4 linked regions of the Homo sapiens genome follow. The protein of the gene in region 2 interacts with the protein of the main gene of each other region in a biochemical or structural test. Each region holds a gene or a part of one and is shown on either strand. Other genes may lie near its edges.

Region 1 (7,027 bases), on a different chromosome or scaffold from region 2:
GACAGGCCCTCCAGGCCCTCCAAGCAGCACCATTGTCAGGGCAGACCTTTACAACTCAAGCCATCTCCCAGGAAACCCTCCAGAACCTCCAGCTTCAGGCTGTTCCAAACTCTGGTCCCATCATCATCCGGACACCAACAGTGGGGCCCAATGGACAGGTCAGTTGGCAGACTCTACAGCTGCAGAACCTCCAAGTTCAGAACCCACAAGCCCAAACAATCACCTTAGCCCCAATGCAGGGTGTTTCCTTGGGGCAGACCAGCAGCAGCAACACCACTCTCACACCCATTGCCTCAGCTGCTTCCATTCCTGCTGGCACAGTCACTGTGAATGCTGCTCAACTCTCCTCCATGCCAGGCCTCCAGACCATTAACCTCAGTGCATTGGGTACTTCAGGAATCCAGGTGCACCCAATTCAAGGCCTGCCGTTGGCTATAGCAAATGCCCCAGGTAAGATTTCCAATCTTGTGCATTTATTGGGAACCAACTCTAGCATCGTAGCTGAAACTTGAGTCTAAAGAAAGGAATAGAGCCTTTTGAGATAACACTTTCTTGAGGGTTAGTCATTTAGGCAAATAAATTTGAGAAATAGAGATTCTGTTTAAGTAATTTGGAACTGAAGTAAAGGAAACTTCTCCAGTTAGTTTGAGGAAGGAGCACTTCTGGGCAATATTCTGGAGTCTGTAATACTCAGTGTTTTTGGTGCTGCAGAATAATGGTTGACAAGCTTTCTGTAAAGGGCCAGATAGTAACGTAAATATTTTAGACATTGTGGGCCTCATGTGGTCACATTTTCTTTTCTTTTTTTTTTTTTTGAGACAGAGTCTTGCTCTGTCATCCAGGCTGGAGTGCAGTGGCGCGATCTCGGCTCACTGCAAGCTCCGCCTCCCAGGTTCACGCCATTCTCCTGCCTCAGCCTCCCGAGTGGCTGGGACTACAGGTGCCTGCCACCACGCCCGGGTAATTTTTTGTATTTTTAGTAGAGACGGGGTTTCACCATGTGAGCTAGGATGGTCTCGATCTCCTGACCTCGTGATCCGCCCGCCTCGGCCTCCCAAAGTGCTGGGATTACAGGCGTGAGCCACCGCGCCCGGCTTTCTTTTCTTTTTTTTCTTTTTTCTTTTTTTTTTGAGATGGAGTCTTACTCTGTTACCCAGGCTGGAGTGCAGTGGCGTGATCTCGGCTCACTGCAACCTCTGCCTCCCGGGTTCAAGCGATTCTCTTGCCTGGGCTTCTTGAGTAGCTGGGATTGCAGGCGAGCACCACCACGCCCAGCTAATCTTTGTATTTTTAGTAGAGACAAGGTTTTGCTATGTTGGCCAGGCTGGTCTCGAACTCCTGACCTCATGTGAATCCACCTGCCTCGGCCTCCCAAAGTGCTGGGATTATAGGTGTGAGCCACTGCACCCAGCCACATTTTCTGTTTTGTATGTTTTTTTTCCACACCCCTTTAAAAATGTAAAACCATTCTTAGCTCTAAGGCCTTCTTTGGCCTGTAGGCCAACTCCTCCATAGGATAAAAATTGATTATGGGCCGGGTGTGGTGGCTCACGCCTGTAATGCAGGCACTGAGAAGACGAGGCAGGTGGATGGGTTGAGTTCAGGAGTTCAAGACCGGCTGGGGCAACATGGCGAAACCCTGTCTTCGACAAAAATACAAAAATTGGCCGGGTGTGGTGGTACATGCCTATGGGCCCAGCTACTCGGGAGGCTAAGGCATGAGAATTGCTTGAATCTGGGAGGCAGAGGTTGCAGTGAGCCAAGATTGCACCACTGCACTCCAGCCTGGGCAACAGAGTGAGACTCTGAAAAAAAAAAAAAATACAAAAATTAGTCGGGTGGCTGGGCACGGTGGCTCACGCCTGTAATCCCAGCACTTTGGGAGGCTGAGGTGGGTGGGTCACCTGAGGTCAGGAGTTCAAGACCAGCGTGGCCAGCATGGCGAAACCCCTTCTCTACTAAAAATAAAAAAATTAGCCAGGCATGGTGATGCGCGCCTGTAGTCCCAGCTACTCAGGAGGCTGAGGCCAAGAATTGCTTGAACCTGGGAGGCAGAGGCTGCAGTGAGCCGAGATCACATCACTGCACTCCAGCCTGGTTGACAGAGCAAGACCCTGTCTCAAAAAATAAAAATAAAAGGCGGCCGGGCGCGGTGGCTCACGCCTGTAATTCCAGCACTTTGGGAGGCCGAGGCGGGTGGATCACAAGGTCAAGAGATCGAGACCATCCTGGCTAACACTGTGAAACCCTGTCTCTACTAAAAATACAAAAAATTAGCTGGGCATGGTGGCGCGCACCTGTAGTCCCAGCGACTCAGGAGCCTGAGGCAGGAGAATCACTTGAACCAGGGAGGCGGAGGTTGCAATGAGCCGAGATCGCGCCACTGCACTCCAGCCTGGGTGACAGAGCGAGACTCCGTCTCAAAAAAAAAAAAAATAAATAAAAATAAATTTGATTATGGGCTGGGCGCGGTGGCTCACGCCTATAATCCCAGCACTTTGGGAGGCCGAGGTGAACAGATCATGAGGTCAGGAGTTCAAGACCAGCCTGACCAATATGGTGAAACCCCGTCTCTACTAAAAATACAAAAATTAGCCGGGCGTGGTGGTACAAGCCTGTAGTCCCAGCTACTTGGGAGGCTGAGGCAGGAGAATCGCTTGAACCTGGGAGGCAGAGCTTGGAGCGAGCCAAGATCGTGCCACTGCACTCCAGCCTGGGTGACAGAGTGAGACTCCGTCTCAAAAAAAAAAAAAAAATTGATTATGAATTTTACCTGTTTGTAGAACACAGATTAAATCATCAGATATTTCTTGTGAACTGTAACTCCTAATTGAAGGGAAAATGATCTAACGGGTTGCTTTTCAACGAAGTAAGTTCCCTGGTTAGTATTAACCAGAATATCCCACACTCTGAGTGTGCTGGTTAATCAGGATTGAATTTTTTTTTAACTCCTAGTTATCTGAAAAACAAAATCCCATAGCTTCCCTTCACACTAACATATGAGCATCCTAGGTGATTCTGATACTTCTAGGTAGCAGTCTAACTTCCTAGACTGCTTTGAAAGTACTGTGTGTGGTTAGGAAGGGAGAAGGAAAGGGAGTGGGGTAAGTTGGGGTCTGGAATGGAGTGGGGGATGTAGGATTGAGAAGAGTTAGGAATGAGGAGAGCATTGAAGGGAAAAACAGTCTGGGAAGAATATTGAATCTGTTGACCATAATGTTCAGGGTCTTTCATTTTGAACTAAATGTTTCACTATTAATTTGAAATTTAAAACAGTAAACAGATGTAAGTCTATGTAGACTGTATCTTTTTTTTTTTTTTTTTTTCATTTTTGAGACTGAGTCTTGCTCTGTTGCCCAGGCTGTAGTGAGTGGAGTGGTGCAATCTCCGCTCACTGCAACCTCCCCTTCCTGAGTTCCAGTGATTCTCCTGCCTCAGCCTCCCAGGTAGCTGGGATTACAGGCGTGTGCCACCATGCCCGCCTAATTGTTTGTTTAATGGAGACGGGGTTTCACTGTGTTGACCAGGCTGGTCTCGAACTCCTGACCTCAAGTGATCTGCCTGCCTTGGCCTCCCAAACTGCTGGGATTACAGGTGTGAGCCACTATGCCCGGCCTGACTTTATCATTTTAAATTCCATTGTATGGAGCTAATCTTTAATAAAGCACAATAAAAGGATACACATACATCTTTATATGCTGGCACAATTATACAAATACGGAAAATAGTTTAATATCACCAAATAATATCACCCAACTTCTAGGTTTGTTTTTTTTTTTTTTTTCGTTTTCTTTTTTGGGACTGACTCTAGCTTGTCTCCCAGGCTGGAGTGCAGTGGTGCGATCTTGGCTCACTGCAACCTCTGCCTTCCGGGTTCAAGCAATTCTTCTGCCTCAGCCTCCCGAGTAGCTGGGATTACAGGCACGTCCCACCATGCCCATTAATTTTTTGTATTTTTTTAGTAGCGATTGGATTTCACTGTGCTGGTCAGGCTGGTCTCGAACTCCTGACCTCGTGATCCGCCCGCCTTGGCCTCCCAAAGTGCTGGGATTACAGGCGTGAGCCACTGCGCCTGGCCACTTCTAGTTCTTTTGGCATATATATGTGGGTTTATAAATTGTTTACTTTTGTTACCAAGTTCTCATTCCATTTAACTGATTCTTACATAAGTGAGGGTAGCAAATAGGCAACCATATTTCCTGCCTCCTGCAGTTTTGGTAAATCTAGGGGGAAAGTCTGCTTAAGTTCCCTGATTTCTTACATTCCTGTGGTGTGTTTAGAAATACTACATGTTGAGCTTTAACAAGACAGTAATTTTCTTAGTTAATTGAAATCTTAGAATTGAAAGTTAGAGCTGGAAGGGACTGAAGTTATTTAGTACAACTGCCTTATTTTCTAGATGAGGAAATTGAGGTACAGAGAATCACTTAATGAGACAACAGCCAGAGCTGAGGCTAGTTTTACTAGTCTAGGGTGCAACCTGTTTTAACTAGGGACTTGAACAATTCTTTAGATTGTTAAAAATGTATTCGAGCCAGCCTGGTGGCTCACGCCTGTAATCCCAGCACTTTGGGAGACTGAGACAGGCGGATCATGAGGTCAGGAGATCAAGACCATCCTGGCTAACATGGTGAAACCGCATCTCTACTAAAAATACAAAAAAATTAGCTGGGCGTGGTGGTGGGTGCCTGTAATCTCAGCTACTAGGGAGGCTGAGGCAGGAGAATGATGTGAACCTGGGAGGCAGAGCGTGCAGTGAGCTGAGATTGTGCCACTGCACTCCAGCCTGGGTGACAGAGCGAGACTCCGTCTCAAAAAAAAAAAATGTATTCGAAAAGGTGTTTTTGATTTAAGATTTAATGCTCTAAAACTGACAGATGTTTATAAAACATTTATAAAAATGTTTTATAAACTAAACATTTATGGGAATAGAAATGGGAAAAGTTTTATAAAAACTGACCTCTACAACGTAGAAAATTAGACACTTCTGGGCAACCTACACCATCATGTTTATTTTCTATTTGCTCTTAGATTGAAGTGCCCGGTTTTGCTCTTCTTCAGAGCAAACTGTGGGATTATTCCTGTTAATAATTTGGATCCTTGCAATTTCTAAAAGGCTTATAACTTAGGGTTTAGAGAACAGTTATGAGGCATTCTCATTGCTAAATCATGCTCTGGGGAAGTCTGCCATTTAATATGTCATAGACTAGGGCTACCTAGTTGTTACTGATGGTGTTTGAGCTGAAGAAAATGCGTGTGTGTTTCTGTAAGGTAAGAGGAGCTTGACATTCACTAAGGAGATAATGAGGCATTGACAGGCTGTTTTGTAAGAGTTGAGATTGTTTGCTTCATTAATAGGGGTTTTTGAAGATCCAAGTTTTCTCCTTTCTGGCTAGTAATAATTGTGTAGTATTTCCCCTTTAATTGATATGACTTCATCCTTAAAGAAAGATAATAAAATCACTTCCTAGAGGCTTACTCCTTTTTCAGCTTTTGCCTTCCTGCTGGCAAAAGTATCTTGTTTTGGCCAGGCGTAGTGGCTCATGCCTGTAATCCCAGCACTTTGGGAGGCCAAGGCAGGCAGATCTCTTGAGCTCAGGAGTTCAAGACCAGCCTGGGCAACATAGGGATCCCCCATCTCTACAAAAAATATGAAAATTACCTGAGCATGGTAGCACACGCCTATAGTCCCAGCTACTTGGGAGGCTGAGGTGGGAGGATTGCCTGAGCCCGGGAGGTTGAGGACGCAGTGAGCCATGATCACGCCACAGCACTCCAGCCTGGGCAGTAGGGTGAGTCCCTGTCAAAAAAAAAAAGTATCTAATTTTACCCCCTTCTCTGATAGTTATTTTACTGTAAAATTTAACCTTTTTGCAGTATGTTCAACTTCTTGGTACGATGTAGAAAGAACATTGGATGTGAAATGTTGTATGATACATGTATATATCACTGTACAAAATGAGATATATTACATGATTGTGGAAGATTGCAGCTTCCATGGTGTTCACTTAGTCTGTTTACATTCATTATTTTTTAAAATGATCTTTTTTTTTTTTTTTTTTTTGGGAGACGGAGTTTCATTCTTGTTGCCCAGGGTGGAGTCCAATGGTGTGGTCTCGGCTCACTGCAACCTTTGCCTCCTGGGTTCAAGCAATTCTCCTGCCTCAGCCTCCCGAGTAATGCCCACCACCACGCCTGGCTAATTTTTGTATTTTTAATCGAGATTGAGTTTCACCATGTTGGCCAGGCTGGTCTTGAACTCCTGACCTCAGGTGATCTGCCTGCCTCGGCCTCCCAAAGTGCTGGGATTATAGGCATGAGCCACTGTGCCCAGCCGCTAATTTTTGCATTTTTAGTAGAGACTGGGTTTCACCATGTTGGCCAGGATGGTCTCGATCTCCTGGCCTCCCAAAATGCTGGGATTACAGGCGTGATGTTTCTTTTTTTTTAAATTGACACCCCTCCCTCTTTTATCAACAGCTTTTCCTTTCATTTTGTAGTCATATTTTCCCAGATCTTTATTTTATTTTATTTTACTTTTCATTTAAAGCCTCAGATGTTTTTCTTAGCCGCTGCTGAATCCTGAAACTCTTGCCGCAGGTTGACGGGGAGTTGGCTTTTAAAGATTTAAGTTTGGATGACTTCTTGTGAGTTCTGTCTAATAAAGAGTGCAGGGCTGGGCTTTGGCAGGAGAATAGAACATATTTCCTTGATGGGTATAATTCATTCACAAACCAAATTTCAGGTACTAAAAATAACAATTTCACATCTGCTGGGTTTTATTGGGGTCAGGAAAATGTCTTCTCTTAGAAGTTAAGTTGAATGTGATACCAGGGTTGGTTTGCCAAGGGTGTCACTAAACTTGGAGTCAGATTGCTGAGAGCTAATTTGTTAAAAAGTTGTGTTTTAGAGCAGTACATTTGGACATTAATGAAAAGTAGGTTTAGATGATTTAAATGTCTTACCAGTTATCATTTTTGTGCAAAAGGTCATATGAAAGAATTTTCTATTTTAAGATTATATTTTA
Region 2 (7,027 bases):
ATTCCTGGATTGATTGAGCCTGTCTTGAGTGGTGCAGGGAAGCTACTTGGGAGGAGGAGGCTCAGAGACAGCAGAGTGGGAGGGTAAAGGATGTCCTCAGGAAGGAGGTGACATTTGAGTGGGTTCTGGAAAGCTGTGCAAGAATTGGCCAAGTAAAGAAAGGGAGGGACAGGCACTCCAGGCAGGGAAGAAGCTCTGGTTAAAGGCATGGAGGGGTCGATAGAGCAGGCAGAAAAGAGGATTCCTGAGGTTAGGGAGGGGTGGGGACATTCCTGTAATTATCCGTGAGGGGAGATTTTGGGTCCAGGACCCATGGCTGCTTTCTTGGCTCCCTCAGTGGGGCCCAGAAACCACACAGGTAGCTGTGGGACATGGAGGTCTGCTTAGCAGTGCCTAGTAAGAAAGACTTGGTCTGCTACAGGCTGGGCATGGTGGATCACAAGGTCAGGAGTTCGAGACCAGCCTGGCCAACATGGTGAAACCCCGTTTCCACTAAAAATACAAAAAAATTAGCTAAGCACAGTGGCGGGTGCCTGTAATCCCAGCTACTCGGGAGGCTGAGGCAGGAGAATCGCTTGAACCTGGGAGGCAGAAGTTGTGGTGAGCCGAGATCATTCCACTGCACTCCTGCCTGAGCAACAGAGTGAGACTCCGTCTTAAAAAAAAAAAAAAAAAAAAAAGACTTGGCTACAAGGGAAGGAGCCTATACGAGGACAAAGGACATTGTCAAAGAGAATGGGGTAAATATTTTCATTTATTTATTATTATTATTTTGAGACAGAGTCTTGCTCTGTCGCCCAGGCTGGAGTGCAGTGGATGCAATATTGGCTCACTGCAACCTCTGCTGCCCGGGTTCAAGCGATTCTCCTGCCTCAGCCTCCCGAGTAGCTGGGACTACAGGTGCATGCCACCACGCCCAGCTACTTTTTGTGTTATTAGTAGAGACGGGGTTTCAGCATCTTGGCCAGGCTGGTCTTGAACTCCTGACCTCGTGATCCACGAGAATGGGGTAAATATTAAAGAGTCCTAAGTGTTTGAAATGCTTGTTTTCTGGTGCTGTAAAGAAATAGCATTTGAACGTAAATTCAATTTTTTTTAGCAAGGCCATATTTATACTTTCTGCAGAAAGGGTACACTCACCAGTTGTTTTGCCATGAGAATACATTGAATAAAGGAGACAGGGTTATTTATAACTTGATGTGTTTACTCTGCTGCTGTATCCAGTTTTTATTGGCTGGAACAGGACCTCACATTCTGTATTTGTCCCAATTGGCTAGCAACTTAGAACTTTTTTTTTTTTTTTTTTTTGGAGACAGAGTCTCACTCTGTCGCCCAGGCTGGAGTGCAGTGGCATGATCTCGGGGTCACTGCAAGCTCCACCTCCCGGGTTCACACCATTCTCCTGCCGCAGCCTCCCAAGTAGCTGGGACTACAGGTGCCCGCCACCACGCCTGGCTAATTTTTTTTGTATTTTTTAGTAGAGATGGGGTTTCTACGTGTTAGCCAGGATGGTCTCGATCTTCTGACCTTGTGATCCGCCCGCCTCAGCCTCCCAAAGTGCTGGGATTACAGGCATGCGCCACCACACCTGGCCAGAACTTTTGAAAAGAGGCAAAGGCAGAGGAGAATAAAGGAAGGAGGAAGTAACTTGTGGAATGCTGAAAAAGGTAAAAATAACCTTTAAATAAGGAAGAGGAACAGGCTATGATCTAATGCTTGCTTGGACTAATATAAGCATGCCAAGGTAAATATTTAGGCTAAATTGTGGGAGCTAAGAATATAAAGTACATTGATTTCTTTATTATGGCTAGCAGATATTTAAGAATGTTAGTACAGGTCTTTGAATAAATTTTGCTTTTAAGAGAAGTTACTATTTATTTCTAATTAGATGGGGAGGAAAGTCTTTGAAGAGGAACCTCTACTTTACTTTTTACATAAGCAACCTGGTGGCTGCTGGGGAAACCCTTAAAACACTGGGCAGTAGAACTCCACTGAGGTTAGTGTCAGCTCCCTTGAGGCCAAGAGCAGCTGCTCACTTGGGAGTTTTGGCTGCTGTCGCTTGGCCTCTGGGCCCTCCTGGGGCTGGTTCTGTGCTCCTTAGTCCGTGGGAAGTTACTAGACCCAGCTTCATTTCCAAAACATCTCAAGCTGCCATTTGATAAGAGTAGCATTGGAACACAGAATCAGGCTTATCCCTGTTGCCTAGCGAGGGCTTGGCTGGATGGTGGGTGTTCCTGGATCTTGTATGAATCTCTCCTGCAATATCTGGTCCTTTCAGAGTTTCCTGGGACAGATTGACCCTAGTAAGGCTAAGGAATTGGGATAGTAGTAGCATCTTCCGTCTCTGCGCAGTACTTTACATACATGATCTCATTTAGACCTTATAACAGCTCTGCAAGGCTGGTACTGGTGAGGAACTTGAGACTTAGTAGTGCAGTACTTGTCCCAGGTTGTCCAGTGCAAAGGATAGCAGGACAGGGCACAGGGAGAAGAGCACGGAAACACCAGTGGGAATACAAGGTGACAGGCTCTGTTGGGAAGCTCTTTTTTTTTTGGGGGGGGGTGAGATGGAGATTTACTCTTGTTGCCCAGGCTGGAGTGCAATGGCACAATCTCGGCTCACCGCATCCTCCACCTCCCAGGTTCAAGTGATTCTCCTGCCTCAGCCTCCCGAGTAGCTGGGATTACAGGCATGTGCCACCACGCCCAGCTAATTTTGTATTTTTAGTAGAGACGGGTTTCACCGTGTTGCCCAGGCTGATCTTGAACTCCTGACCTCTGGTGATCCGCCTGCCTCTGCCTCCCAAAGTGCTGGGATTACAGGCCTGAGCCACTGCGCCTGGCCAGCTCTGTCTCTTGATTAAGGTGGAGGATATTCTCAGCTTGTCTTTTGGGACCAGGCAGACCAGAAATGCTGGAGCATATTGGCAAACCAGCAGCCTAAGGATTTGGAAGAAAGGCTGGTCAGAGTGTCAGTTGCTTATCAACCAGCTGAGAGCCTGAACTTTCCGGAAGACATGGCTCTTGGGTAGCCACTGGGAACAGGCTTAAAACAGCTTTGGTTCTTTGAGTTCTTTGTGGGGAGTGATTGTCTGGTGTGAATCACAGTTGATAGTGCCCTGAAAGGTTCAAGGCCACATTTCCCAGGGGAAGATAAGCTTTCCACAATGTATAGAAACTCAGAAAACTCCAAGTTCTTTATGCTAAGAAACAAAAAGGGCTCAGAAAGGCTGAACACAAAGTCAAGGAAGAGAAATTGATAACTTTTGGTTAAAGGGAAGAGTTTCCAGCCTTTTGGCCAGGGCATCCACTACCAAGTCCAAATCCTGACTTGGCCTCAAGCTTTTGTAAAGGGATGCATCGTGTCCCTTTTGACCTGCTGATAGTTTTTTTGAGATGGAGTCTCACACTGTCACCCGGGCTAGAGTACAGTGACGCGATCTCGCCTCACTGCAACCTCTGCCTCCCAGGTTCAAGTGATTCTCCTGCCTCAGCCTCTGGAGTAGCTGGGATTACAGGTGCCTGCCACCACGCCCAGCTAACTTTTGTATTTTCAGTAGTGATGAGGCTTCACCATGTTGGCCAGGCTGACCTTGAACTCCTCACCTCATGATTCGCCCACCTCAGCCTCCGAAAGTGCTGGGATTACAGGTGTGAGCCACCATGCCCAGCCGACCTGCTGATAGTTTGATAAAACAGAAGTTTTACTTTCTGGAATTTCTACTCATTTTATGTTTTGGATGGTTTCTCTCTCCGTAAGCATTCAGTATTCTTGAATCTCAAGTTTTGAAAGGAGCCCTAACTTCAAGTCTACTCGCTGGCTTCTTAATGAAGTGAACCATTTCTATTGCCCATTTAGTTCTTCCTGAAACCCTGACATTCTGGTGTTCATGTGACTCTTCTTTCCCCCTTGCTACTCAGAGAAAGCGTCGTGGTGGAGCAATAAATTCTAGACAAGCTCAGAAGCGAACTCGGGAAGCAACCTCCACCCCCGAGATCTCCTTGGAAGCAGAACCCATAGAACTCGTGGAAACTGGTAAGATTGCCAGGGACACTACAACTGTGGGGTGTTAAAGTGGAGAGAGAACACTGTACCAGGGTGAGCTAGTAGAAGGTGCTTTCAGTGTCTTTAGAAGGCCTATGCAGTCTCACACTCACCATGTACAACTCAAAGCTTCACAGATTCTGAAATAGCTTCTCAACTGGGCTAACTGTTCAACTCTGGTAATGTGCAGCAGTGGGGTAGGATCCATTTAAAAAAAAATCTAGCGCAAATGAGATAGCCCACCTTTTCTATCTGAAACTGCATCCCCAATTGCTGGACCTTGTAAAGTACTTCGCTTTCCTCTTCTGTTTTTCATTAGGACATGAAATCACCCAAGAAGGCAAACTTGTCCACAGAGCTCCCTGTGTTGGAGCTTGGTATAGGCAGAGGCCAGATTGGATTTCCCCTTCTGCCTGCTCAAGAAGTGGTTGATGGCTGGCCTAAGTCCCTTTGCTCTGCATATATTGTTTTTATAACTAGGATACCTGCAAACTGGCATTTTATTTTTACTTATTTATTTTTGAGATAGAGTCTTGCTCTGTCGCCCAAGCTAGAGTGTAGTGGTGCAGTCTCGGCTCACTGCAAGCTCCACATCCTGGGTTCACGCCATTCTCCTGCCTCAGCCTCCCAAGTAGCTGGGACTATAGGCACCCGCCACCACACCCGGCTAATTTTTTGTATTTTTAATAGAGACAGGGTTTCACCATGTTAGCCAGGATGGTCTCGATCTCCTGACCTTGTGATCCACCCGTCTCGGCCTCCCAAAGTGCTGGTATTACAGGCGTGAGCCACTGCACCCGGCCATGCAAACTCGCGTTTTAAACAGAAGAAACTTAGTGCAAGATAAATTTCATGGGCCCCCCAGGAGAAATGAAGTTCTCTATATGGTCTCTGAGTTTCACTTCTACAAATGAGTTCTTGAAAGCCTTGACTTGAGGCTAGGATCCTGGCTCTAGACCAAAAAGGAACGAACTGCTTTCCGTCATGGCACTTGTCATCCTCTAGGCAGTCTTACCCCTGTGTGTACTTAGGGCTGCCCATTAGAGCACTGTTTTGTTTTTGTTTCTGTTTGAGGCAGAGTTTCGTTCTGTCAGCCAGGTTGGAGTGCAATCGCGTGATCTCGGCTCACTGCAACCTCTGCCTCCCAGGTTTAAGCAAGTCTCCTGCCTCAGCTTCCCAAGTAGCTGGGATCATAGGCGCCCACCACCACACCCGGCTAAATTTTTTTTGTATTTTTAGTAGAGACGGGGTTTCACCATGTCAGTCAGGCTGATCTCGAACTCCTGACCTCAGATTATCCACCTGCCTTGGCCTCCCAAAGTGCTGGGATTACAGGCCTGAGCCACCCGCCTGGCCTAGAGCACTGTTTTTGTAAGAGCCCAGAATTGTGTTCACCAGAAAGAGAATGGTTCAATAAATTGTTGTATATCAGTATATGGACTGTTGGACAGCCCTTCTTTTTAATAAAGAATGCAATAATTTTATATAAATTATATTGTATATGTAAGATTATCACGGTTTTTATTCTTGTGAAACTTTATGATACAAGAAAATAAAACAGGCCAGCCAGATTGCTTGAGCCCAGGAGTACCAGACCAGCCTGGACAACATAGTGAGACCCTGTCTCTATAAATAAAAAAATTAGCCAAGTGTGGGAGGCTGAGGTAGGAGGATCACTTGAGCCTGGAACATTGAGGCTGCAGTGAGCCGTGATCGTGCCACTGCACTCTAGCCTGGGCAACAGCAAGACCCCACCTAAAAAATAAATAAAAGAAGTTACGTTGGGTTGGGCGCCATGGCTGGCTCCTATAATCCCAGCACTTTGGGAGGCCGAGGCGTGCAGATCACCTGAGGTCAGGAGTTCAAGACCAGCCTGGCCAACATGGCGAAACCCCATCTCTACTAAAAATGCAAAAATTAGACGGGCGTGGTGGCGGGCGCCTGTAATCCCAGCTACTTGGGAGGTTGATGCAGGAGAATCACTTGCACCTGGGAGGCAGAGGTTGCAGTGAGCCGAGATCGTGCCACTGCACTCCTGCCTGGACGACAGAGCGAGACTCTGTCTCAAAAAAAAAAAGTTAAATGCATTACAAGACACTTTCCCCAAATATTAGACCAATACTGTTTCTTAAAAAACTTCATTTAGTGTTTTGTTGTTGTTGTTGTTTGTTTGTTTTTGAGATGGAGTTTTGCTCTTGTTGCCCAGGCTGGGGTGCAGTGGCGTGATCTTTGCATCCCGGGGTTCAAGCAATTCTCCTGCCTCAGCCTCCCGAGTAGCTGGGATTACAGGCATGTGCCACCACACCTCGCTAATTTTGTATTTTTAGTAGAAACGGAGTTTCTCCATGTTGGTCAGGCTGGTCTCGAACTCTCAACCTCAGGTGATCCGCCCACCTCAGCCTCCCAAAGTGCTGGGATTACAGGTGTGAACCACTGTGCCTGGCCCATTCCGTGCTTTTTAATATTAATATTAATAGTAATCAGAAATAAAAATGGTTGTGCGTCATTTTTTACTTTATATAAATGGAAGTTGTACGTTAACTGTTTGGTCCATGTCCTTCTCACCTTTATCCTGTGCACATGTAGACATCACAGTATACCCTAAGGGCTGAAAGGCAAGCTTCACAACAGATGCAACCCATTTTGTATGTTGAGGTTCTAGCTATCAGTATATATCACTGTTATTCTCCATCCAACTAGGGAGACAAACTTGAGAGATAAATGGAAATTAAAAGTTTGTCCTTGGCCGGGCACGGTGGCTCACGCCTGTAATCCCAACACTTTGGAAGACTGAAGTGGGTGGATCACAAGGTCAGGAGTTCAAGACCAGCCTGGCCAAGATGGTGAAACCCCATCTCTACTAAAAATACAAACAAAATTAGCCAGGCATGCTGCCAGGCGCCTGTAATCCCAACTACTCGGGAGGCTGAGACAGAGAATTGCTTGAACCCAGGAGGCGGAGGTTGCAGTGAGCCAAGATCG
Region 3 (7,027 bases), on a different chromosome or scaffold from region 2:
GAGACTGGGTTTTGCCATGTTGGCCAGGCTGGTCTTGAACTCCTGACCTCAGGCGATCCACTCGCCTCGGCCTCCCAAAGTACTAGGATTACAGGTGTGAGCCACTGCACGCGGCCAAGTGTGTTATTATATTAGAAGGTGATAGTGCAGTGGAGAAAAAGCATGGAAGAAGACTAGGAAATTGATCATTTGGGGATTTCGATTAGGAAAAAATAAGCTGTAACATGGAATGACCATGTCCTTAACCCAAAAAGCTTTTAGTAGATTTATCTAACCCACACCAGGATGTTGCTGCTGCTGCTGAAGTTACTTAAGCTCTAAGAGGAACTGTATTTTTTTTAAAATGCCATATTATACAAATGTAACATGGGATTTCATTACTTGGTAATGAGTAAAACAAGTAAGGGTAGACTTTGAATTTCTTATTGGAGAGTATGTATTTTAAAGTTGAGCTAGTAACTGCTTTAATGTATTCTGTCAGTGCGTCTCAACCATCTTTTAGGTTCTGCCCACATAGAAAGTAAGTTTTGAATAGTACACTAAAGTAGATGAGATTGGGAGGCTAGAAGCACCTGGCAGGCAGCACCTCATGAAACTCCCGGGATGGGAGATCAATATTCTGGCACACCTGTAAATGCTGGGGACGCTCTACTCCCTAATATTGCTAGAGTTCTGCCATATACAATTCAAGATAGTGGTTTTCAGACTTATGTGATCCCTTTGAGACATTCTTTACTCATTTTCTTTTTTTCTTTTCCTTCCTATTGTTTCTTCCTAGAAAAAAGTAATGTATCACCAAGTAAGATTACAGTTAAATTATGTTTTAAGAAACCTTTTCTTTTTTGGAGACAGGGTCTCACTGTGTCACCCAGGCTGGAGTGCAGTGGCGCTGTCTCGGCTTGCTGCAGTTTCAACCTCCCTGGGCTCAAGTGATCTTTTCCATCTCAGCCTCCTGAGTAGCTGTGACTACAGGTTTTTGTATTTTGTAGAGACAGGTTTCACTATGTTGCCCAGGCTGGTCTGGAACTCCTGGGCTCAAGCAGTCACCTGCCTTGGCCTCCCCAAATCCTGGCATTACAGGCGTGAGCCTATGTGCCCAGTCTTAAGAAACCATCATTAAGAGAATGTTATATTTGTGGTGATACCTAAAATTGATAGGAGTTAAACAGATCTACATTTAATTTTGGTAATTCTAAAAATCTTTAAATATTACATGAAAAGTTTCTTGTAGCAAATTTTTAGTTTTAGCGTTTTAGGGACTGATTATTTGGTAGAAACTTTTATCCCCAAACTGCAGAAGCATTCTTTTATTGAAGTGAATTTTTATGTGATTCTAAACATTTTTGAAAGTGTAGCAGTATTGAGGTATTCTTTTCTCAGGTGAATCCTAAAATTGAATTTTTTGTTGTTGTTGTTAAATGCTTTTTTAAAATTTTATTTTATTTTATTTTTTTGAGACAGAGTCTCGCTGTCGCCCAGGCTGGAGTGCAGTGGTGCGATCTCGGCTCACTGCAGGCTCCAATCCCCGGGCTTCATGCCGTTCTCCTGCCTCAGTCTCCCGCGTAGCTGGGACTACAGGCGCCTGCCACCTCGCCCGGCTTATTTTTTGTATTTTTAGTAGAGACGGGGTTTCACTGTGTTAGCCAGGATGGTCTCCATCTCCTGACCTCGTGATCCGCCCGCCTCGGCCTCCCAAAGTGCTGGGATTACAGGCGTCAGCCACCGCGCCCGGCCGTGTTTTTAAATTTTATAACCTTTTTTCTTTCCTATGTATTATTTAATGTTATGAAGTACTTGACCTCCTGGATATAATTTCTGATTTTAGAATTTAACTGCTTCATTCAGACTTCTCGTAAGTTAGCAATTTTAACATATATGCTGTCTAATTTTCTAATTTGACATTCTAGAATTGTTAATTTTAGATAAAACCTCCTGTTACGTTGTGTCTTAAGATCTTAGAAAGTCAGTGCATAGTAGTTGATGTTTGTCAACTCTAAAAACAGTGATATAATTGAGAGAAATGGTCAGTTGAATTACCCTTGTGAAATTTCTGCATTTACTTCCTCTCTTACCTAGCTGGGTCTTAGACTGTTAACTGTCAATTTGTAGGGATGGAAGGAGGTTGAGATTTAATAACAGGAGATAAAGTATGAATGTGTGCTTATTTTCAGACTTAGAAATAATGCATTATTTTGGATTATTCACAGCTTTTAAAATTTTTTCTCTCTGAGACAGGGTCTCACTCTGTCACCCAGGCTAGAGTGCAGTGACGTGGTCTTGGCTCACTGCACCCTTGTCCTCCCAGGCTCGGGTGATCCTCCCACTTCAGACTCCCAAGCAGCTGGGACTATAGACACGCCACCATGCCTGGCTAATTTTTTTATTTTTTGTAGAGATGGGTTTTTTCCCTGTTGCTCAAGTTGGCCTTGAACTCCAGGACTCAGCCATCGGCCCACCTTGGCCTCCTAAAGTGCTGGGATTATTACAGGATGAGCCATTGCCCCCAGCCCACTGCTCTTTGCTCAAGTAATTGGCTATAGTGATTGAGAGAGATGGAACATGGACTCTTACAGACATTACTGTTGTAGTAGTCATGTTGCCTTGACAGTTAGATACGACGTCTGTTTGTTGATGTCAGTATGGAAGGGTTACAACATAATTAAAAGTTAGAAAATAGGCCAGCATGGTGGCTCAAGCCTGTAATCCCAGCACTTTGGGAGGCTGAGGTGAGTGGATCACCTGAGGTCAGGAGATCGAGACCAGCCCGGCCAACATGGTGAAACCTAGTCTCTACTAAAAATACAAAAAAAATTAGCCAGGCGTGGTAGAGCGCATCTGTAATCCCAGTTATTTGAGAGGCTGAGGCAGGAGAATCCCTTGGGCCCAGGAGGCGGAGGCGCCTTGCAGTGAGCGGAGATCATGCCACTGGACTCCAGCCTGGGCGACAGAGTGAGACTCCAGCTAAAACAAAAAAAAAAAAAAGGAAAAAAAAAAAGGATTATCTTTGAACAGTAAAAATTTACAATTATAATTTTACTCAGTACACAAGTATACACATGAGAACTTCTTTTTAAAATATGATACATAAAGTAACCTTGTGTTATAAACTCAGGAATATTTCTTCTTTTCTTTAGCTATAAAAACTATAAAGTAGTTTAGTAAATGCTTAATTCTTGACTGAAAAGTTACATAATTACACCAATGATTTCTCTGTGATGCCAAACTGTGTTCATTACTTACACCTTCACAGCATCAACAGATTTCAGAGCTTAGTTTCACTACTCAGTTACTGTGTAATTTTGAGTAAGTCACTTTCCAAATAAGTACATACTTACCAGCAGTTACTGCTATGTCTCTATTAGAATGAAATTAGGTTAGTTGACTTCCTTTTTTATAAAGAATATGAAGATACTATGAAGAACATTACAGTTATGGCAAACGCATGCAGCAAGAAAATAAGCCACTTTTTTGGTATATTATATAAATATGAATTTTAAATTATTCCTTTATAGGTACTGAACCTTACTATTGTAGAACTGCTTAATAGACTGACCTAAAATAGAATTAAACTAATGCAGAATTAGCTATTTAGGAATGCTTTTTGAAGTGTTAAGTAATGGACAAATATTTACGGTAGTCACTGTGTGCACATTTAAGGGATAGAGGGAAAGTATTTTTTCCTGCCTTAATGAAGCAGGAAATCTAAAGCAGAAAGTAATATCAGATTATCCTTCAAGGCTGGCCACCGCGCCTGGCCTTCAAAGATAATCTTCATTATCAAGGAGAGTTTTTAAGGTGGGATGATCCCAGCGTGGGACAAAAATTAGCTGGGTGTGGTAGCACATTCCTGTGGTCCCAGCTACTTGGGGGGCTGAGGTGGGAGGATCACCTGAGCTCAGGGAGTTCGAGGCTACAGTGAGCCAGGATTGTGCCACTCTACTCCAGCATGGGTGACAGAGTGAGACCCTGTCTCAAAAAATTTATATAAAAATAAAAAATAAAGTGCCGCTGCACTCCAGCGTGGGTGACAGAGTGAGACCCTGTCTCAAAAAGTATATATAAAAATAAAAAATAAAGGGATGATCTGGCATCTCTCTGAAAATATAGTTCTCCTTAGTATTTACCTAAATTAAGCATTTGTTAGATGAATTTTATTCCATCTTTATATTATTGCTGTCTGCTTCATTATGAGTAGTATCTGCAAAATACTTGTTCATGTTTGTCAGGTATTAAAGTGTCCTCATTTGAAAGCCTTTATTTGTGAATGTAGTTCTTGGATCACCAAAAAACAGCGCATGCTTTTGAGTTGTTTTATTCTAAGAAAATACTCTACTTTCATTTAGCTGCTTTTGTAAAACTTCATTAGAGATAAAGAACACAGGCTCTGTAATGAAAAGACCCAAATTCAGGTCCTGTTTCACTACTTTTTAAAAAGCTATATTGCACAGAAATCATTATGGAGTGTAGTGGGTAGACAAAAACAGATTAGCAGATAGATAAACATATAAAACTGCATTTTGTATTTATCTTACCCAAACTTGTTTTCTGTAGTACTCCCCATGTTGGTATATAGGCAACTTCATTCCATTTGCTCAGCCAGAAACCTTGGGTTCATTCCACCCTACAGTCAAACCATTAGCAAATTTCTATCTGCTCTGCTTTCAAAATATATCCAGAATTCAACTGATTTTCTGAATTCCTGATGTAAATACAGATGACATCCTCATTTCTTGCCTGGATTATATTAGCAGTGTCATACTGGTTTTCCTACTTCTGCCCTCATCCGTTTACTTATCTCTTTAGATTCCCAATAGATTCTTTCTAAACAAAAGTCATGTCATTTCATTCATAATCCTACTATGACTTCCCTCTCTTCCTCAGAATATAATCCAAAATCCATGTTATAGCCTAGGAGGTCTTAACCTCTCCCAGGTACTCATGTCTCTGTAGCCTTATTGTCCTCCTTGCTACTCCTGCTTGTTGTTTTCTCTATTTGGAATGCTCTTCTCACACATCTGGATGATCTGGATGGCTTCCTTTTTTTTTTTTTTTTTTTCTTTTCACTCATAGCTTTGTTCAAATATTTTTTTTTTAAGAGAGCCCTTCCTGACTACCCAATATAAAATAGCTCTCCCATCCCAGCGCTAATAATTTCCTTTACCTTGATAAATTCTTCATACCTTTGGCTATGTATTAATTAGCTTATTTTCTATTTTCTTGGATGTAACCTAGTGCCTGACATGTAGGAGAGTTCAGTAAATGTCGAATAAATGAATAAGTGAGCACAGCTTTTGGAATCAGATAACCTTGGGTTTGAATTCTAGTGTTGTTGTTTAATAGCTGTGTAACCTCCCACCTCCAAATATAAAATAGGGATGATAAAAACAGGTTATTTCATTTCCTGGATCTTTGGAATTGGTGAATTATCTTTTAATGCTATGTTTCCCATTTTAAGCTAGCTCTACTAGATGCTTTTGTCTTTTTTTTTTTTCTGATTTCTAGTCCCTGCACTAGCTATCAATGGAAAAAATAGATTTCCTTTATGACCATGTGTTACATGAGGTCTTTCTTTGTATTTTCAGACCACAGGAAGGAGGGTGGAAGTATGGTTTCCAGTAAGTGTGTGTTTTTTTGCCAATCCTCTTCAAAACTTGAGAATTAGTCAAATAAAATTGTGAGCTATTAAAGTCCATTTTGACATCCTTTTAATGCACAATTTTTTCTTCTAATTGAAATATAATCCACATATAAAACTTACCCTTTTAAAGTATACAGTTCAGTGGTTTTTAATCTGTTCAGAACCATCACTGCTGTTTGCAGAACATTTTCATCACCCCAGAAAGAAACTCCTTATCCATTAGCAGTCACTCCCTATTTCCCCCTTTCCCCAGTGTCTGGAAACCACTCATCTATTTTTTGTCTCTGGATTGGTCTATTCTGGGTATTTTGTGAGAGTGGAATTATATTATATATGACCTTTTGTGCCTGGCTTCTTTCACTTAGCTGTTTGTTTGAGACAGGTGAGACAGGGTCTCATTTTGTCACCCAGGCTGGAGTGCAGTGGCACAATAGGCTCACTGCAACCTCTGCCTCCTGGGTTCAAGTGATCCTCCTGCCTCAGCCTCCGTAATAGCTGGTACTACAGGCATGCACCACCATACCCAGCTAATTTTTGTAGTTTTTTTTTTCCCTGAGACAAGAGTCTTGCTCAGTCTCCCAGACTGGAGTGCAGTGGCACCATCTCGGCTCATTGCAACCTCCGTCTCCCAGGTTCAAGCAATTCTTCTGCTTCAGCCTCCCGAGTAGCTGGGACTGCAGGCGTGCGCCACCACACCCAGCTAATTTTTGTATTTTTAGTAGAGACGGGGTTTCACCATGTTGGCCAATCTGGTCTCTTACTTCTGACCTCAAGAGATCCACCTGTCTTGGCCTCTTAAAGTGCTGGGATTACAGGTGTGAGCCACTGTGCCCAGCTAATTTTTGTATTTTTGTAGAGACGGGGTTTAACCATGTTGGCCAGGCTGGTCTTGAACTCCTAGACCTTGTGATCCGCCCGCCTCGGCCTCACAAAGTGCTGGGATTACAGGCATGAGCCACTGTGCCCGGCCTTAAAAAAAGCTTTTATATAGACAGATTCACTGTGTTGCCGAGGCTGATCTTGAAACTCCCAGTCTCAGCACCCCTCCTGCCTAGGCTTCCCAAAGTGTTGCGATGACTGGCCTGAGCCACCATGCCCAGTTCATAATGTTTCTGAGGTTCATCCATGTTGTAGCTTGTATGAATACTTATTCCTTTTCGTAGCCAAGTAATGGCCCATTTTTTGGTTGTACTGCAGTTTATCCATTCACCAGTTATTTAAATATCAGATATTTGTGTTTCCTGTTTTCATTCATCAATGGATTAATTGACAGTTTGGATTGTTTCCCCTTTTTAGTATGAATAATGCTGTGAACATGTATGTACAAGTTTTTATGTAGGCTTGTGTTTTAATTTGTTTTTGTTAATATACCTTGCATGTAGGAGGACC
Region 4 (7,027 bases), on a different chromosome or scaffold from region 2:
GTATGGGCCGCCCCATGAGACTGATGGACATGGACTAGCTGAGGCTACACAGTCATCCAAACCTGGTAGTGTTATGCTGAGACTTCCAGGCCAGGAGGATCATTCTTCTCAAAACCCCTTAATCATGAGGAGGCGTGTTCGTTCTTTTATCTCTCCCATTCCCAGTAAGAGACAGTCACAAGATGTAAAGAACAGTAGCACTGAAGATAAAGGTCGCCTCCTTCACTCATCAAAAGAAGGCGCTGATAAAGCATTCAATTCCTATGCCCATCTTTCTCACAGTCAGGATATCAAGTCTATCCCTAAGAGAGATTCCTCCAAGGACCTTCCAAGTCCAGATAGTAGAAACTGCCCTGCTGTTACCCTCACAAGCCCTGCTAAGACCAAAATACTGCCCCCACGGAAAGGACGGGGATTGAAATTGGAAGCTATAGTTCAGAAGATTACATCCCCAAATATTAGGAGGAGCGCATCTTCGAACAGTGCGGAGGCTGGGGGAGACACGGTTACGCTTGATGATATACTGTCTTTGAAGAGTGGTCCTCCTGAAGGTGGGAGTGTTGCTGTTCAGGATGCTGACATAGAGAAGAGAAAAGGTGAGGTGGCTTCGGACCTAGTCAGTCCAGCAAACCAGGAGTTGCACGTAGAGAAACCTCTTCCAAGGTCTTCAGAAGAGTGGCGTGGCAGCGTGGATGACAAAGTGAAGACAGAGACACATGCAGAAACAGTTACTGCCGGAAAGGAACCCCCTGGTGCCATGACATCCACAACCTCACAGAAGCCTGGTAGTAACCAAGGGAGACCAGATGGTTCCCTGGGTGGAACAGCACCTTTAATCTTTCCAGACTCAAAGAATGTACCTCCAGTGGGCATATTGGCCCCTGAGGCAAACCCCAAGGCTGAAGAGAAGGAGAACGATACAGTGACGATTTCACCGAAGCAAGAGGGTTTCCCTCCAAAGGGATATTTCCCATCAGGAAAGAAGAAGGGGAGACCCATTGGTAGTGTGAATAAGCAAAAGAAACAGCAGCAGCCACCGCCTCCACCCCCTCAGCCCCCACAGATACCAGAAGGTTCTGCAGATGGAGAGCCAAAGCCAAAAAAACAGAGGCAAAGGAGGGAGAGAAGGAAGCCTGGGGCCCAGCCGAGGAAGCGAAAAACCAAACAAGCAGTTCCCATTGTGGAACCCCAAGAACCTGAGATCAAACTAAAATATGCCACCCAGCCACTGGATAAAACTGATGCCAAGAACAAGTCTTTTTACCCTTACATCCATGTAGTAAATAAGTGTGAACTTGGAGCCGTTTGTACAATCATCAATGCTGAGGAAGAAGAACAGACCAAATTAGTGAGGGGCAGGAAGGGTCAGAGGTCACTGACCCCTCCACCTAGCAGCACTGAAAGCAAGGCGCTCCCGGCCTCGTCCTTTATGCTGCAGGGACCTGTTGTGACAGAGTCTTCGGTTATGGGGCACCTGGTTTGCTGTCTGTGTGGCAAGTGGGCCAGTTACCGGAACATGGGTGACCTCTTTGGACCTTTTTATCCCCAAGATTATGCAGCCACTCTCCCGAAGAATCCACCTCCTAAGAGGGCCACAGAAATGCAGAGCAAAGTTAAGGTACGGCACAAAAGTGCTTCTAATGGCTCCAAGACGGACACTGAGGAGGAGGAAGAGCAGCAGCAGCAGCAGAAGGAGCAGAGAAGCCTGGCCGCACACCCCAGGTTTAAGCGGCGCCACCGCTCGGAAGACTGTGGTGGAGGCCCTCGGTCCCTGTCCAGGGGGCTCCCTTGTAAAAAAGCAGCCACTGAGGGCAGCAGTGAAAAGACTGTTTTGGACTCGAAGCCCTCCGTGCCCACCACTTCAGAAGGTGGCCCTGAGCTGGAGTTACAAATCCCTGAACTACCTCTTGACAGCAATGAATTTTGGGTCCATGAGGGTTGTATTCTCTGGGCCAATGGAATCTACCTGGTTTGTGGCAGGCTCTATGGCCTGCAGGAAGCGCTGGAAATAGCCAGAGAGATGGTGAGTATGAGAAATCTCTTACCAGCTTGGGATTTTTATTTCATTTGGTTCCTTTTCTTGCATGTTTTTGTTCTTACATGTCACATGATTATTCCTCCAAATTAAAGTGCCTATGCCCATGTGATGGACAGAAAATGAAATAGGTAATTTGGAAGATTTGTATAGACTTCTAAAATCGTTTTTCATTTTTTGAAATGTATAATGCTTATGAAGCATATTATTATATTTCAAGTTTCTTGGGCCACATCTTTTCTAACGCACACTTTCCAGTTAGGATATTTATTCTTTGGATCTGTTTCATAACTTATCCTGGGGCAGATCATCAACATCATCATCTTCATTTCTTTCTCTCCTCTATTGAATGTTCTGTTTCCTGAATCCCATTTCTTCCTCATTCTTAAAGTGAGCCTTCATTTAAGGGCGTGCATCATCCTTTAGTAGTTTTGTGAGAAAGGGTGTGTGGGAGTGTAAAAATGTTGAGATCCTATATATCTGAGCATGACTTTATCCTAGCCTCATGCTTAATTGAGAGTTGGCTAGGTGTGGAATTCTAGATTGGAAGTGATTTTTCTCTCACTGTCTTGCAGTCGTTCTTCCTGGTTTGTCCACTAGCTTCCAGTGCTGCAGTTGAGAAGACTGCCATTCTAATTTTTCATCCCTTGATGCATGTTCTGTTTTTCTTCTGGAAAGTTTGAGGATCTTCTCCTTTTCCCTAGGGTCTTGAGATGTCAAAATGATAGGTCTTGACTAGGTCATTTCATGGTTGTGTTGGCTACTCTATGAGATCTTATGTACGCTGATGTCTTTCAGTTCAGGCAATTTGTCATGTGGTAGTTCTTTGAAAATTTCCTTCCCTCTATTTTCTCTGCTCTCTTTATAATTCCTGTTAATATAAGGCATTTTACCTCCTGGATTGATCCGCTGTTTTTATCTTTTCTCCTCTGTTTTATGTTTTATCTCATTATCTTTTTGTTCTGATTTCTCTATGCTTTCTTCAGCTTTATCATCTAATCTTTTTTGTATGTGGGTTTTGTTTTGGTTTTGTTTTGTTTTGTTTTGTTTTGTTGTCACTCAGGCTGGAATGCAGTGGTGCGATCACAGCTTACTGCATTCTCGAACTCTGGGGCTCCCTGGTACCTGGGACTAAAGGTGTGTGCCACCATGCCCAGCTAATATTTATATTTTTTGCAGAAACAAGGTCTCACTGTGTTGCCCAGAGTGGTCTCAAACTGCTGGACTCAAGCAATCCTTCCACTTCGGTCTTCTAAAGTACCAGGATTATAGGCATGTGCCACAAGCCACAGTGCCCAGCCTTCTAGCCTTTTATTTACTTATTTTTTTTCTTGATATTTTGAAGAGCTTTTTTTTTCTCTGAATGTACTGACTTTTAAAGAATAATCAGAGCCTAGTTGATGGCTATAATCGTTTCTCTTGCTTTTTGAATACATTATAACGTATTTTTTGTTTTTGTTTTTGTTTCAGTTTCATGCCCTTACCCAGGCTGGAGTGCAGTGATGTGATGATGGCTCACTGCAGCCTCCAACCACTGGGCTCAAGGGATCCTCCCAAGTAGCTGGACCACAGGTGCATGCCAGTACACCTGGCTAAGTTTTTTACTTTTTGTAGAGACAGCATCTCACTTTGTTGCCCAGGCAGGCTGGTCTCACCACCTGAGCTTAAGCAATCCTCCCACGTCAGCCTTCCAAAGTGCTGGAATTACAGGCGTGAGCCACTACACTTGGCCTGTACTATAATTTTTAAAAATCTTTGTCTGTTTCCTATTTTCTCTTTCTTGTTAGAGGTTCTTCAGATGTCTTGATTTTTTTTTCTTTATTGAGATGGGGTTTCGCTCTTGTTGCCCAGGCTGGAGTGCAATGGCGCAATCTCAGCTCACCGCAACCTCCGCTTCCCAGGTTCAAGCGATTCTCTTGCCTCAGCCTCCTGAGTAGCTGGGATTAGAGGCATGCGCCACCATGCACAGCTAATTTTGTATTTTTAGAAGACATGAGGTTTCTCCACGTTGGTCAGTCTGGTCTCGAGCTCCTGACCTCAGGTGATCCGCCCACCTCGGCCTCCCAAAGTGCTGGGATTACAGGCTTGAGCCACTGCACCCAGCCTTGATTTATATTTTTAAGAGAGAAAGAGATGTTTTAAAAAATGACTTGAAGCTCTCTGTTACAGTATGGGCCAGGCTTGCTAGCCTGTAGTCCTCTCCGTAGAATAATAAGGCAGCCAGCCAGCATATGGGTCTTTTTTCTGAGTTGAGTTTTCCCAGAGGAAAAAAAAACATTTTTTTTTTTGTTCCAGAGAAAAATCTTGAGATTTCCTGTCTAGAGATGCAAGCTTGGCTGCCAGCGTCCTAAAAGCCAAGTGGAGAAGAGGATGGTAGGGTTGTGTGGGTGGGGATATGGGCTCATGATTCAGTGCGCGGACTTTGACAATCTCCCGCCTGTTTTCAGTGGATGAGAACAGTTACCTGGTTGAACTGGGTTAAGGATCTAACTCCTCTTAGAAACTTTGGGCTAATGCTCTATTTTTCAGCCCCATGTTGCACCCCCACTTACTGAGGCCTCCCCAAGCTCTGTGCCCTAAAGTGGCTGGCTTTCTGGGGGCTCCTCCACTGCACTCATCATTACTGTCTGCTTCCTTGCAGTGCACAGAATCACTGTCACTCACTTCATCTCTCATGTTTCCAGCTTCCCATTGCTCATGGTGTCATGAGTTTATCTTGCAAGTTTATCCACTTTTTCGTGGGAAGGGATCAGATGGATGTACAACTGTATGTTTAGTAGTCTACCATATTATTTATAACCTTCTGGCAAAAAGAAGTGCCCATAGACTATAGTAAAAATTATATTGAATGTGAAATATATATTTGAAATTAGAACATTTTAATTCAGTCATGCAAGGAGCTTGCCCTTTACTCTTATCATGTCCCCTATCTCCCAATTACGGTCTTTTCTTTGTGCCTCCTTCCCTGTCTCCATTATTAACATCACGGTGAAACTCCAAGTTTGAGGTAGAAGATTCACTTCCCCTAAGAAGTTTATACACAATGACATTTTAAAATGCAAAGATCCTAGGAGGATGTAACATTTAAGACCCTCAAGTACAAAATTCTTTAGTCAAATTTGAGCGCTCAAAATAATCCGTTAATCATCCTCTTGTCAAAGTTGAGTTCTTGCTTCCCAACTTTCCTTGGAAAGTCACAGTATTTGGTGGGTTTTTTGTTGTTTGTTTTTTGAGACAGAATCTCACTTTGTTGTGGGGTTTCACCATGTTGGCCAGGCTGGTCTGGAACTCCTGACCTCAGATCATCCATCTGCCTTGACCTCCTAGAGTGTTGGGATTACAGGTGTGGGTCACTGCGCCCAGCCTGTTTATTGCTTTTTGATGTGCATATGTGTATGTGACCATCTGACAGTGTTTTCGTTATTTCAACATTTATTATTAACATATCTCAGCCCAGTTTTTTTGTGTAAACTTTTAGGTGTTCTATAGCAATAATTGATAATCAGTAATCAGGCTAAATCTTCCCCAGCAAATCTCTAGATCCTGTGTCTCAATTCAGGTCTTGGGCCGAGCATGATGGCTCACGCCTGTAGTCCCAGCACTTTGGGAGGCCGAGGTGGGCAGATCGCCTGAGGTCAGGAGTTCAAGACCAGCCTGGCCAACATGGTCAAACCCCGTGTCTACTAAAAATATGCAAAAATTAGCTGGACATGGTGACAGGCACCTGTAATCCCAGCTACTCGGGAGGCTGAGGCAGGAGAATGGCTTGAGCCTAGGAGACGGAGGTTGCAGTGAGCCAAGATGGTGCCACTGCACTCTAGCCTGGGCGACTGAGTGGGATTCAATCTCTAAAAAAAATAAGAAAAAAGTTAGGCTTGTTGTCTCTTTGAGCTGATGTACCACTATCACTATAAGATCCGTTTCTAGCTTTTATTTACCTAGCTTTTATTCTACTTTTCTCAGTGCACTCAAGGACAAATTAAAATTACACTAACTTGCCTTTTATTTAATTTGACAGATGATGTTTCAATTGTCCAGGATACTTTGAGTCTAGTTTTATCTTACTAGGTTTTAGCAGATAGATGCATTCAGTTTTGGTCTTGCTTAATGAGCATGCCCTTAATCCTATCATGTAAGATAAAGTCACATATATTTCATTAGAGATCCATTTTGGCCTATGTATTTATCAGGTGTTTTGACAAGCACGATGTTATATTAAAATATTGGGAAGTCCTCAAGAGACATTGCTCCTCTCCCTGTGTCACACTACTCTGAAAATTGCCGAAAACTAGAACATTTCTATATTTAAAAATGGTGTTTACTTCCCTTCCTTTTTCCCTTCCTTTTTCCCTTCCCACAAGTGTGGGACTTGTGAATCTATTCATTTCAGCACAAGTCCCCTTTGCTTCTGTCCAACATTGACCACTGTTTGCCTTGGTATAATTGTGTATGAGAATCACAATGACCTCTGACATGAATGATATTACAGAGGTAATTGCCTCTGAATGGGTATGGATATAACTTGGTATGTACAAATCACCTTTGAGACATTAAGGAATGCCAAGGCGTGCAGGGATGTGACAGAAGGTAGATCTGGTGGCCATGGATCCCTTGAGGCTGGATAGCCCTACTAGTGGGGGAGTCGGGGAGTCTTTGCTTGTTCCCCTCTCATAGAAGGTGCCCCTCCCAAATTTTTCCAACCCCCCTTGGGAAACTTTTAATCTTTTTTTTTTACCTGACAGTATATGTTAACTGGTTTTAGGTTAATTTTTATTTTCTATTTTTATTTTTATTTTGAGATGAGTCTTGCTCTGTTGCCAGGCTGGAGTGCAGTGGCACAATCTTGGCTCACTGCAACCACCTCCTCGTGGGTTCAAGTGACTCTCCTGCCTCAGCCTCCCAAGTAACTGGGACTGCAGTCATGCACCACCACACCTGGCTAATTTTTGTATTTTTAATAGAGACAGGGTTTCACCATGTTGGCCAGGCTGA

The links.
Region 1: the proteins of RNF4 (region 2) and SP1 form a complex in vitro, tested with the Homo sapiens proteins (2 studies listed by BioGRID, with this or other methods).
Region 3: the proteins of RNF4 (region 2) and UBE2W form a complex in vitro, tested with the Homo sapiens proteins (2 studies listed by BioGRID).
Region 4: the proteins of RNF4 (region 2) and TCF20 form a complex in vitro, tested with the Homo sapiens proteins (one study listed by BioGRID).

What each region holds. Positions count from the first base shown.
Region 1 is NC_000012.12:53,383,173-53,390,199, forward strand, and holds part of SP1 (transcription factor Sp1), read left to right. Parts: coding exon 1-450; intron 451-7,027. UniProt on the Homo sapiens protein: Transcription factor that can activate or repress transcription in response to physiological and pathological stimuli.
Region 2 is NC_000004.12:2,493,086-2,500,112, forward strand, and holds part of RNF4 (E3 ubiquitin-protein ligase RNF4), read left to right. Parts: intron 1-3,921; coding exon 3,922-4,036; intron 4,037-7,027. UniProt on the Homo sapiens protein: E3 ubiquitin-protein ligase which binds polysumoylated chains covalently attached to proteins and mediates 'Lys-6'-, 'Lys-11'-, 'Lys-48'- and 'Lys-63'-linked polyubiquitination of those substrates and their subsequent targeting to the proteasome for degradation.
Region 3 is NC_000008.11:73,868,857-73,875,883, reverse strand, and holds part of UBE2W (ubiquitin-conjugating enzyme E2 W), read left to right. Parts: intron 1-5,582; coding exon of another isoform or gene 5,583-5,615; intron 5,616-7,027. UniProt on the Homo sapiens protein: Accepts ubiquitin from the E1 complex and catalyzes its covalent attachment to other proteins.
Region 4 is NC_000022.11:42,204,647-42,211,673, reverse strand, and holds part of TCF20 (transcription factor 20), read left to right. Parts: coding exon 1-2,023; intron 2,024-7,027. UniProt on the Homo sapiens protein: Transcriptional activator that binds to the regulatory region of MMP3 and thereby controls stromelysin expression. It stimulates the activity of various transcriptional activators such as JUN, SP1, PAX6 and ETS1, suggesting a function as a coactivator.